Linked DNA regions of Homo sapiens. The protein of the gene in region 2 purifies or fractionates together with the protein of the main gene of each other region. This does not show direct contact. Each region holds a gene or a part of one and is shown on either strand. Other genes may lie near its edges. The genes, in order: DCP1A, PPP1R35 and EDC3.

Region 1 (3,652 bases), on a different chromosome or scaffold from region 2:
TTCCACCAAGACACAGGAAGGCTGCATAGTTGAACAAATCCTCTGTGGAAAGTTTGGATTGACACTGGGCTAGCAAGGACAAAGTCAGTTCTTGAAAATAGAGGTCTTGGTGAATCCTTAAAAGTTAGTAACACTATAAGCAAATAAAAGGTTTCCCTTATTCTCCCTTTTAAAAACCACCAACTTAGCCTGGGCAACTTGGCAAAACCCCGTCTCTACAAAAAATACAAAAATTAGCTGGGCGTAGTGGTACACGCCTGTAGTCCCAGCTATTTGGAAGGCTGAGGTGGGAGGACTGCTTGAGTCTGGGAGGTAGAGGCTGCAGTGAACTGAGATCACACTACTGCACTCCAGCCTGGGTAACAGAGTGAGACCTTGACTCCAAAAAAAAAAAAAAATCACTAAGTGGGCTTTCAGTTTTTAAGAACACCCCCTTCTCCCTTGTAAAGAAAGATCTGAAACAATTACAGCAAAATATTAGGAACTGAAAGCTGGGTGGTAAGCACATACATATTTTATTATTTCCTATATTTTTCTTCAAGCTTTCAAGCTTGAATAATAAATTTTAATAAAGCAACTTTTTTTGTTTTTTTTAAGATTCATTCAGGCCAGGCACAGTGCTCATGCCTATAATCCTAGCACTTTGTGAGGCTGAGGCAGGACGATCACTTGAGCCCAGGAGTTTGAGACCAGCCCAGGCAACATAGTGAAACCCTGTTTTAAAAAACAAAAAACCCAGCCTGCACAGGAGCTCTCATTAGAGTGTGGGGAAGAGGTGAACAGAGATGGCTTTTTTATTTAAAAATACTGGGTTAAACAATATTAAACCGACTTAAAAAAAAAGAAAAAACAGAATCCTTGAGTTTTATTATTATTTTTGTAGAGATGGAGTTTGATATGTTGCCCTGGCTGGTCCCAAAACTCCTAGTCTCAAGTGATCCTCCTGCCTCAGCCTCCCAAAATACTGGGATTAAAGGCATGAATTACCACAACCCACCCATTGAATTTTTGTTTGTTTGTTTTATTTATTTTTTTATTGTACAGACAAGGTCTCACCATGTTGCCCAGGCTGGTCTCAAACTCCTGGCCTCAAGCAATCCTCCCACCTCAGCCTCCCAAAGTGCCGGGATTATAGACATGAGCCACCACAACTGGCCAGTTGATTTTTAAGCATGCTAAAATTTATTGTGATTCTCCAAGAAGGGCAGGCCTATAGATTTTCTCAAATTTTATTTGACTATAGAATTTTACTCTGAGGTAGAATTCCTGTTTGGAAAATGTGGCTTTAAGGTAACATGTAGTTTTTCTATCTAGATTCATAATTATAGCTCTTAATAAGACTATTACTTCTAAAACAAATGTAGCATCATGAGCTTCATGGTAGACTGAAAGACTGGTATGGGATATGAGAATAAGACCAAACATGAATTGTTTATTTAATGCTCAAATATAGGCCACATCAGCCTGAATCCATCTTCATAAAGGATCTGTCACACGGCCTGTTTTCCACCTACCTCCTGACATGTTGCCTGACTTGGCCATGCTGGTATTTAACTCTTCCCTGACCCAGACTAGGATCTGTGATTCTGTGATTATTTTGGTTTAAGAGAAGAATATTTCTTTTCTTTTTCTTTTTTTTTTTTTTTTTTTTTTGAGACAGAGCCTTACTCTGTCACCCGGGCTAGAGTGCAGTGGTGCGATCTCGGCTTACTGCAACCTTCGACTCCCGGGTTCAAGCGATTCTCGTGCCTCAGCCTCCCTAGTAGCTGGGATTACAGGTATGCACTATCATGCCCGGCTAATTTTTGTATTTTTAATAAAGACAGGGTTTCACCATGTTGACTAGGCTGGTCTTGAACTCCTGACCTCAAGTGATCTGACCACCTCAGCCTCCCAAAGTGCTGGGATTACAGGCGTGAGCCACTGCGCCCAGCCAGAACAGGTAATTTTATAAAGCTCACCACTGCTGAAAGCAGAAGCTGTCGGGGGTGGTAATGGAAGGGACTCTCACATAAACGAGGCTTGGACTCTAAGGCCTCTTCTAATCCAAACTTTATGGATAGCACTCATGCCATTCTCCTTTCCTTTCAAACACCAAAACCTACCCCTAAGATGTCTGTAAGATCAGGAATAAAGCTTACTTCCATGAGTTCTCCAAAGTTTACATAGTCTATGTGGCCAAACCGTCAAACAACTTTTTATTGTTAAAAAGAGTTTCTGAGGCCGGGTGTGGTGGCTCACGCCTGTAATCCCAGCACTTTGGGAGGCCAAGGTGGGTGGATCATGAGGTCAGGAGTTCAAGGTCAGCCAGGTCAAGATGGTGAAACCCTGTCTCTACTAAAAATACAAAAATTAGCTGGGTGCAGTGGCAGGCACTTGTAATCCCAGCTACTCGGGAGGCTGAGGCAGGAGAACTGCTTGAACCCAGGAGGGCGGAGGTTACAGTGAACCCAGATCACGCCACCACATTCCTGGGTGACAGAGCAAGACTCTGTCTCAAAAAAAAAAAAAAAAAAAAAAAGAGTTTCTGGCAGACTGGATTTCCTCTTTAGGAGAGTCAACAGCTTCTAAGTTTAGTGGGTTTTCAACTCTGCCACCACTGACCAGAGAATATACAAATTTAGATGACATAGGGTCTAGAAGCTCACTCATTTTCCTACATAGTTTCTCGTTTTTATAAACATTGTTTGGAGTAAATCAGTTTGTTGTTTTTTTTTTTTGTTTTTTTTTTTTTTGAGACGGAGTCTCGCTCTGTCGCCCAGGCTGGAGTGCAGTGGCACGATCTTGGCTCACTGAAAGCTCCGCTTCCCGGGTTCACGCCATTCTTCTGCCTCAGCCTCCTGAGTAGCTGGGACTACAGGTGCCCGCCACCATGCCCCGCTAATTTTTTTGTATTTTTACTAGAGACGAGGTTTCACCATATTGGCCAGGATGGTCTCGATCTCCTGACCTCGTGATACGCCTGTCTTGGCCTCCCAAAGCGCTGGGATTACAGGCGTGAGCCACCGCGCCCAGCCTGGAGTAAATCAGTTTTTTTACTTGGAGGATCTTTATTATATTGTGGCTGTCAAATAGTGATGGGAAGAACTGTATTTAAAAGAATGGGCACTGATGGACACATTTATTTATATGTATAATATACTAACAAGAACTGTGCTAGTATTTTTGGATAGTAGAGGTGATATTCTCAAATATGTAGCAAACAACAACAACAAAAAGTAACAAACAGGTTTATGCAGGCAGATTTAGAACAAAGACAGATAGTCTTCTTTAGTTTTGGTGACCAGAGAGGCATTTATCACAAAGTTAATGGTAACATACAATATTCTCTTCAGCTATAAATAGGCCAGACACTTAAAACTCATTATCAACAGTTTCACCAGGGTATTCTCTAATCACTTTTTTTTTTTGAGATGGGATCTCACTATGTTGCCCAGATTGATCTTGAACTCCTGGGGCCCAAGTGATCTGCCCACCTGGGCCTCACAAGTATTATAGCTGAAATGACAGGTACACACCACTGTGCCTGGCTTCTCTAATCACTTTCTTTTCTTCTTCCCTTTTTTTTTTTTTTTTTTTTTTAATTAAACAGAGATGAGTCTTGCTATATCAGGCCAGGATGGTCTTGAACTCCTGGCCTTAAGCAATCCTC
Region 2 (3,323 bases):
ACTGACATTAAAAATTAAAAAAACTGAATTCAAGGCTGGGTGCAGTGGCTACTGCCTGTAATCATAGCACTTTGGGAGGCCAAGGCAGCTGAACCACTTGAGGTCAGGAGTTCGAGGCCAACACGGTGAAACCCTGTCTCTACTAAAAATACAAAAAAAATTAGCCGGGTGTGGTGGTAGGCGCCTGTAATCCCACCTACTTGGGAGGCTAAGGTGGGAGAATTGCTTGAACACTGGAGGCAGACGTTGCAGTGAGCTGAGATTGTGCCACAGTCTCCAGCCTGGGCACCAGAGCGAGACTCCGTCTCAAAAAACAAAATAAAACATTGAACCCACAATACAGAGTTTTTTGTTTGTTTCTGAGACAGGGTCTTGCTCTGTCGCCCAGGCTAGAGCGCAGTGGTATGATCAGAGCTCATTGCAGCCTGGAACTCCTGGACTCAAGTGATCCTCCCGCCTCAGCCTTCCCAGTAGCTGGGACTACAGGTGAGCACCACCACCACGCCCGGCTAAAATTAAATTCTTTTGGTAGAGATTGGGAATGGTGGTGTGGAGTCTCGGTATGTTGCCCATGCTTGTCTCCAGCTCAGGGTTTCAAGACATCTTCCCGCCTTGGCCTCCCAGAGTTGGAATTGCAGGTATGCGCTACCGCACCCGTGCCAGATATCTACTTTTTATACAAATTAATATTTCAGGGAACTCTCGAAGGTAAAAGTAGTCACAAAAAGCTGCAAGAGTTGCTGTGTCCCAGAAGGGAGTCCGGGATGGGGTCGGCGACCCTCGCCCGCACTCATACAGGCCAACTCCGGTCCGAGTTTGGAGGCAACGGAACACCGGAAATGCTGTGCAGGTCTGAGTGGGAGGTCAGGGCACACTGGACCGTTACCTTAAAGCTGCCCCATTTATGGCCAGGTGCGGTGGCTCATGCCTGTAATCCCAGCACTTTGGGAGGCCGAGGTGGGCGGATCACGAGGTCAGGAGTTCGAGACCAGCCTGACCAACATGGTGAAACCGTCTCTACTAAAAATACAAAAATTAGCCGGGCGTGATGGCGCGCGCCTGTAATCCCAGCTACTCAGGAGGCTGAGGCAGGAGAATCTCTTGAACCTGGGAGGCGGAGGTTGCAGTGAGCCGAAATCGCGCCCCTGCACTCCAGCCTGGGCTACAGAGAGAGGCTCAGTCTCAAAAAAAAAAAAAAATGCTGCCCCATTTGGCGCCCCAGAATGAGGACTGACACACTGGGCAATGGGCATCGCAGCGCTAGCAGGACTAAGATTCCTCTGGGTAACTCAGCCATAGCAGAGTTTTCAAGAGGAGGAGTGGCCCTGATGAGGACCCGTAGGGCTTCAACCGACCCCAGCTCAAAAACACTTCGGCTTGGGGGCGGTGCCAAGGCTGTGAGTGCTTCCAACACTTCGGCTTGGGGGCGGTGCCAAGGCTGTGAGTGCGGAAGCCTGCCGGAAACCTGGGGACGGAGCGAGGGAAATGACGCCTGGGAGCGACAACAGGGTGGGTGGGGCTGCTGACTCCGCCCCCGAAGGAAAGGGTTAACGGTTTCCGGTAGCGGCGTCTAGGAGGGGCGGGGGAAAGGAGGCGGCAGCCAGGCTGTGTCCCCTGACCGTTGGAGCGTCTGCGACCCCCGCATCCCCGCACCCTCAAGGCACCTCCAAAGATGATGATGGGTTGTGGGGAGTCAGAGCTGAAGTCGGCGGACGGGGAAGAAGCCGCGGCGGTCCCGGGGCCACCCCCGGAGCCCCAAGTCCCGCAACTCCGAGCCCCAGTGCCCGAGCCCGGCCTGGACTTGAGCCTGAGCCCGCGGCCCGACAGCCCTCAGCCGCGGCACGGCAGCCCCGGGCGGCGGAAGGGGCGGGCGGAGCGGCGGGGCGCGGCTCGGCAGCGGCGGCAGGTGAGCGGGGGAGGCTGGCCCCCGGCCCGCGACGGCCTCGCGCCCACCTGGTCACTGCCCTGCCCTCTGCTCCCAGGTCCGCTTCCGCCTGACGCCGCCCTCCCCGGTGCGGTCCGAGCCGCAGCCTGCGGTGCCGCAGGAGCTGGAGATGCCCGTGCTGAAGAGCAGCCTGGCCTTGGGCCTGGAGCTGCGGGCCGCAGCCGGGAGCCACTTTGATGCTGCGAAGGCCGTGGAGGAACAGCTGAGAAAGTCGTTCCAGATCCGCTGCGGCCTGGAGGAGAGCGTGTCCGAGGGTGAGGGGGGCGGGCGGCCGGCCGCGTGCGGGAGTCGGGGTGAGGCGCGCCACTCACCTCCGTCCCCGCTGCGCTCTCAGGGCTGAACGTGCCGCGCTCCAAGCGGCTCTTCCGGGACCTGGTGAGCCTGCAGGTGCCGGAGGAACAGGTTCTGAATGCCGCGCTCAGGGAGAAATTGGCTCTCCTGCCGCCACAGGCTCGAGCCCCGCACCCAAAGGTGATGGGGTCTGGGCGTGGGGCTTCCTCCATGTACCCCCTTACCCGGATCCTTCCTCCCAAAGTGTAACCTTGCTTTGGGCCCAACCTCCCAACAGGAGCCACCTGGGCCTGGGCCAGACATGACCATCTTGTGTGACCCAGAAACGCTATTTTATGAATCTCCACACCTGACCCTGGACGGTCTGCCCCCTCTCCGACTTCAACTCCGGCCCCGCCCTTCAGAGGACACCTTCCTCATGCACCGGACACTGAGGCGATGGGAAGCGTAGACCCCAAAGATCCCTGGAGGGCTAGTTCGTATTTTTGTGTTAAACTATTTGTTAGAATAAAGTAATTTTGCTAATAAATGGGACTCTTCTTGGAGGCCTAAAATGGGGTTAAAAGCTCTCTAGGGGGTTATCCACTTAGCCTCAGGTTGGAAGCTGCCTGGAAGTCGGGTTTGGGGGCCTTTTTGGAACTTGGTAGAGTCATGGCAAGTGGAAAACACTGTCCACGTTAGAGGTTTACTTAGATACCCCTCCGTTCACAACCTTACCTGCCTCTCCCTGACTTCAGCCACAGCTACTGCCTGTTTTTGATCAGGTAGCGATTGTTCTCTGCATCACTTATTCTGATCTCTCAAAATGCAGAGCCCAGCCTATCACACTTCACGAAAACCTTCCATGATTACCTGTCTCAAGGAGCTTGCAAGCCAGCTGTCTGCACTGAGTTACTGAAATTATCTCCTTGCTTTTTACCTTTAAGAGCCTTGCCCATCCTGTTTACACCTGACCTGAATACTCAGTATGTTCGAAGTTCCAGTAACACCTAACAAGCCCCCGAAGAGCTTCATGTTGTTAATTGCCTGTAAGTCTGATTCCACAGCACAAAAAAGGTGCTGGCCCGTCCCTGGGCATTTGATCCAA
Region 3 (3,652 bases), on a different chromosome or scaffold from region 2:
CTTCTCCCTCCATTTCTTTTTTTTTTTTCTTTTTTTGAGACGGAGTCTCGCTCTTTCGCCCAGGCCGGACTGCAGTGGCACTATCTCAGCTCACTGCAAGCTCCGCCTCCTGGGTTCACACCATCCTCCCGCCTCAGCCTCCTGAGTAGCTGGGACTACAGGTGCCCGCCACCGCGCCCGGCTAATTTTTTGTATTTTTAGTGGAGATGGGGTTTCACCGTGTTAGCCAGGATGGTCTCGATCTCCTGACCTCATGATCCGCCCGCCTCGGCCTCCCAAAGTGCTGGGATTACAGGCGTGAGCCACTGCGCCCGGCCCTGCCTCCATTTCTTAAACACCTCCAGGTAAGAATACTTTAATTCATTTACCACTTTGTTCTTATACAAATAAACAAGTTGCCAATTACAAATCTAGCTACTTTGGAATATCCTTCATCTCATTAATACATTACTAGTGTAAGTTTGCTGACAGGATTTGATGTACAATAAAAAAAAATACATCTTCCCTGTAAAGCCTATTCATGACAATAAATCCTTCAAACAATTCCACTTCTAAAAAAAACTAATTTTTCTGTGTAGTATTCAACAATGTTAAATATTTCAAAAAAATGCAATGTTTGTGCAGCTAGCTAACCAACACTTATTTTGCCAACTTGTTATTAAAATCTATCCTAACAATCTGTGTAGCTAGGAAGGGAGCCACAGATGTGACATAATCAAGATTTTCCAGATTACTTTTAATTATGGGACTATTTTGCTCAAATGCTGAACTATCAGGATTTCCAGACTACTGAATGCCAGATAAGTAATGGGACTTTATCATTATTCTGATAAGCCTTTGGATAACAAAGTCAGGTAGCGCTAAACACTCTTCCATCTATTATATTACTAAGGCAGCGCCCAAATGATCCATAAATTACAAATAAACAAGTTGCCAATTACAAATCTAGCTACCTCCATCTCTGTGCCACATCAGACAACTCACAGCATTCAGATCCAATAAACAACCCTTGGCCTGCTAAAAACAATTATAATTAACAGCTGTGGATGAGTGAGTAGTTATAGATTTCTGAAAAACTAGGAATTGTTCCACACAACAGGAAAGGTGTTTGTTTAATCAAAATATTGGGAAAGGCAGAGATCTTAAAAGAAAATATGCAACCCAGCATGATGGCTCAGGCCCTACATCCCAGCACTTTGGGAGGCTGAGGCAGGAGGATCACTTGAGGCCAGGAGTTTCAGACCAGCCTGGACAACATAGCAAGACTGTTTCCACCCCCACCCCGCCTCAGAAAAAGAAATCCAGCACAATCCCCTATCTAAATCCAGTACTAAACCCATATCTTCCATAAAAGGCAGCACGGTGAAAAGAGAATAAAATTCTGAAATCACACTGGGTGTGGTGGCTCACGCCTCAGGTGGCTAGTGTCTGCAATCCTAGCACTGTGGGAGGCCAAGGAGGGCTGACCGCTTGAGCCTAGGAGTTCAAAGCCAGCCTGGGCAACATGGCAAAACTCTGTCTCTAGAAAAAATACAAAAAATTAGTCAGAAGTGTTGGGAGGCGGAGGTTGCAGTGAGCCAAGATTGCACCACTGCACTCCAGCCTGGGTGGCAGAGCAAGACCCTGTCTCAAAAAAAAAAAAAAAGAAAAAAATGAAATCAGACATCACAGCCCCTGGTTCACTTCTGAACTTCCTTACTAACCAGCACTACGACCTGGGCAAATTACCTAATCTGAGTCTCAACTGCCTCATCTGTAGGGAATTATGCCAATTATACACCTATCTCATAGAACCACTATATGAATTATTTTAAGATACTATATGGATTATTTTAAGATACTATATGGATTATTTTAAGATTAAATGAGATAATCCATATAGTGTCTACAACATAAAAAATTTTAGTTCAAATGTCTCCTTTTGCCAGAAAGAATACCGATCACATAGGGAACTTAAGTTATGGCGCTGTGAGGGCCACCTCACTTCTCACCCAAACAAAATTACAAAAATACATGAATTCCCTCTACAACATCTTGGAAATCAAGTCCTGGTCTTTACACTGGAATACACATGTCCGTAGGGGGTACACAAAGATATGCAAGCAAGGGAATCAACTTCCATGCTACTCTCATAAACCTGATCTGTGTGGATAACTAGATGATCAATTTTAAATTTTCAGGCATAAAATTTATTACTTTAGGATGGGTAGGAAAACTACAGCCCTAAACCAGATCTGGTCTGCTACCAATAAAGTTTTATTGGAACACAACTACACAAAAATACTTGCATATTATCTACGGCTATTTTCTGGGTTTTTTTGGGTTTTTTTGAGACAGTCTTGCTCTGTCGTCCAGGCTGGAGTGCAGTGGAGCGATCTCGGCTCACTGCAACCTCCACCTCCCGGGTTCAAGCGATTCTCCTGCCTCAGCCTCCCAAGTAGCTGGGACTACAGGCGCCCACCAACACGCCCGGCTAATTTTTTTTGTATTTTTTAGTAGAGGCGGGGTTTCACTGTGTTAGCCAGGATGGTCTCGATCTCCTGACCTCGTGATCCGCCTGCCTCAGTCTCCCAAAGTGATGGGATTACAGGCGTGAGCCACCGCACCCGGCCACATATTGTCTATGGCTGTTTTCTCACTACAGTGAGAATTAAGCAGTAATCACAGAAACCATGTGGCCCATAAAGCCTTTCATCTGGCCTTTGACAGAAAGTTGACTTTTGCTTTAGGATAAAATTCTGTGGGAAAAGTGGAATGGATACAAGTTCAAAAAGAAAAAGGAAAAATATGTAATGGACAAACTCCCAAAATGATAAAAATGACCAAAACTAACTCAACTAACTATATTAAGAAATTGAATTAGTAAAATCTTCCCAGAGAGAAAAACCCAGGCCCATAGGACTTCACTGGTAAATTCTATGAAACACGTAAGAAATAATACCAATCCTACACAAACTATTTCAGAAAACAGAGGAGGAAGGAACACTTCCCAATTCATTTTATGAGGTCATAATTACCCTGCTACTAAGGCCAAAGATGACATAAAAAAAAGGAAACCTCAGACCAATATCCATCATGAACACAGTCACAAAAATTAACAAAATGTTAGCAAATTGAATCCATCTATATGTAAAAAGTAGTAGATACATTACTAAGCAGGGTTCATTTCACAAATGCAAGATGGGTTTAACATCTGAAAATCAAGTAATGTAATAAGCTATGTTATGTATTTCTTACAGTCTTTGTTTCAAAAGTTTAGTTGTATGTTTTTACAACATCAAATTGATATTGTATTTAGGTAATTTTATATTTATTTTTAAGAAGTCAATATTTACTTGTCAGAAATTACATCCTAAACTATTTAAAATTAAATACTTACACTATGTAAATCTAGGATGAAAAGTTTCAGGTGCCAACTTAAAAGTATATAAGATCTAACAGATTCCACAGTCTTTTAGACATTCTCAAGAAGAAATGTTTTAAGACTAGTGACCCAGCCTATACCTGAAAGCCTGAAATGACAAGGAGAAAAATAATCATTCATGCCAAAGCAACACCACCATATCTTCAAACTTTTGACTTCTGCCCATAAATTTACTCTTAGCACATCTAGATCTAAACCTAATATTCCAGGTACAAGCCTACCAGTGAT

The links.
Region 1: the proteins of PPP1R35 (region 2) and DCP1A purify together in Homo sapiens (affinity purification with mass spectrometry; one large-scale study listed by BioGRID and IntAct). This does not show direct contact.
Region 3: the proteins of PPP1R35 (region 2) and EDC3 purify together in Homo sapiens (affinity purification with mass spectrometry; one large-scale study listed by BioGRID and IntAct). This does not show direct contact.

Annotation. Positions count from the first base shown.
Region 1 is NC_000003.12:53,313,037-53,316,688, forward strand, and holds part of DCP1A (mRNA-decapping enzyme 1A), read right to left. Parts: intron 1-3,652. UniProt on the Homo sapiens protein: Necessary for the degradation of mRNAs, both in normal mRNA turnover and in nonsense-mediated mRNA decay. Removes the 7-methyl guanine cap structure from mRNA molecules, yielding a 5'-phosphorylated mRNA fragment and 7m-GDP.
Region 2 is NC_000007.14:100,434,724-100,438,046, reverse strand, and holds PPP1R35 (protein phosphatase 1 regulatory subunit 35), read left to right. Parts: upstream 1-1,549; 5' UTR 1,550-1,672; coding exon 1,673-1,906; intron 1,907-1,982; coding exon 1,983-2,199; intron 2,200-2,279; coding exon 2,280-2,416; intron 2,417-2,513; coding exon 2,514-2,687; 3' UTR 2,688-2,765; downstream 2,766-3,323.
Region 3 is NC_000015.10:74,689,507-74,693,158, forward strand, and holds part of EDC3 (enhancer of mRNA-decapping protein 3), read right to left. Parts: intron 3,513-3,652; exon of another isoform or gene 3,380-3,512; intron 1-3,379. UniProt on the Homo sapiens protein: Binds single-stranded RNA. Involved in the process of mRNA degradation and in the positive regulation of mRNA decapping. May play a role in spermiogenesis and oogenesis.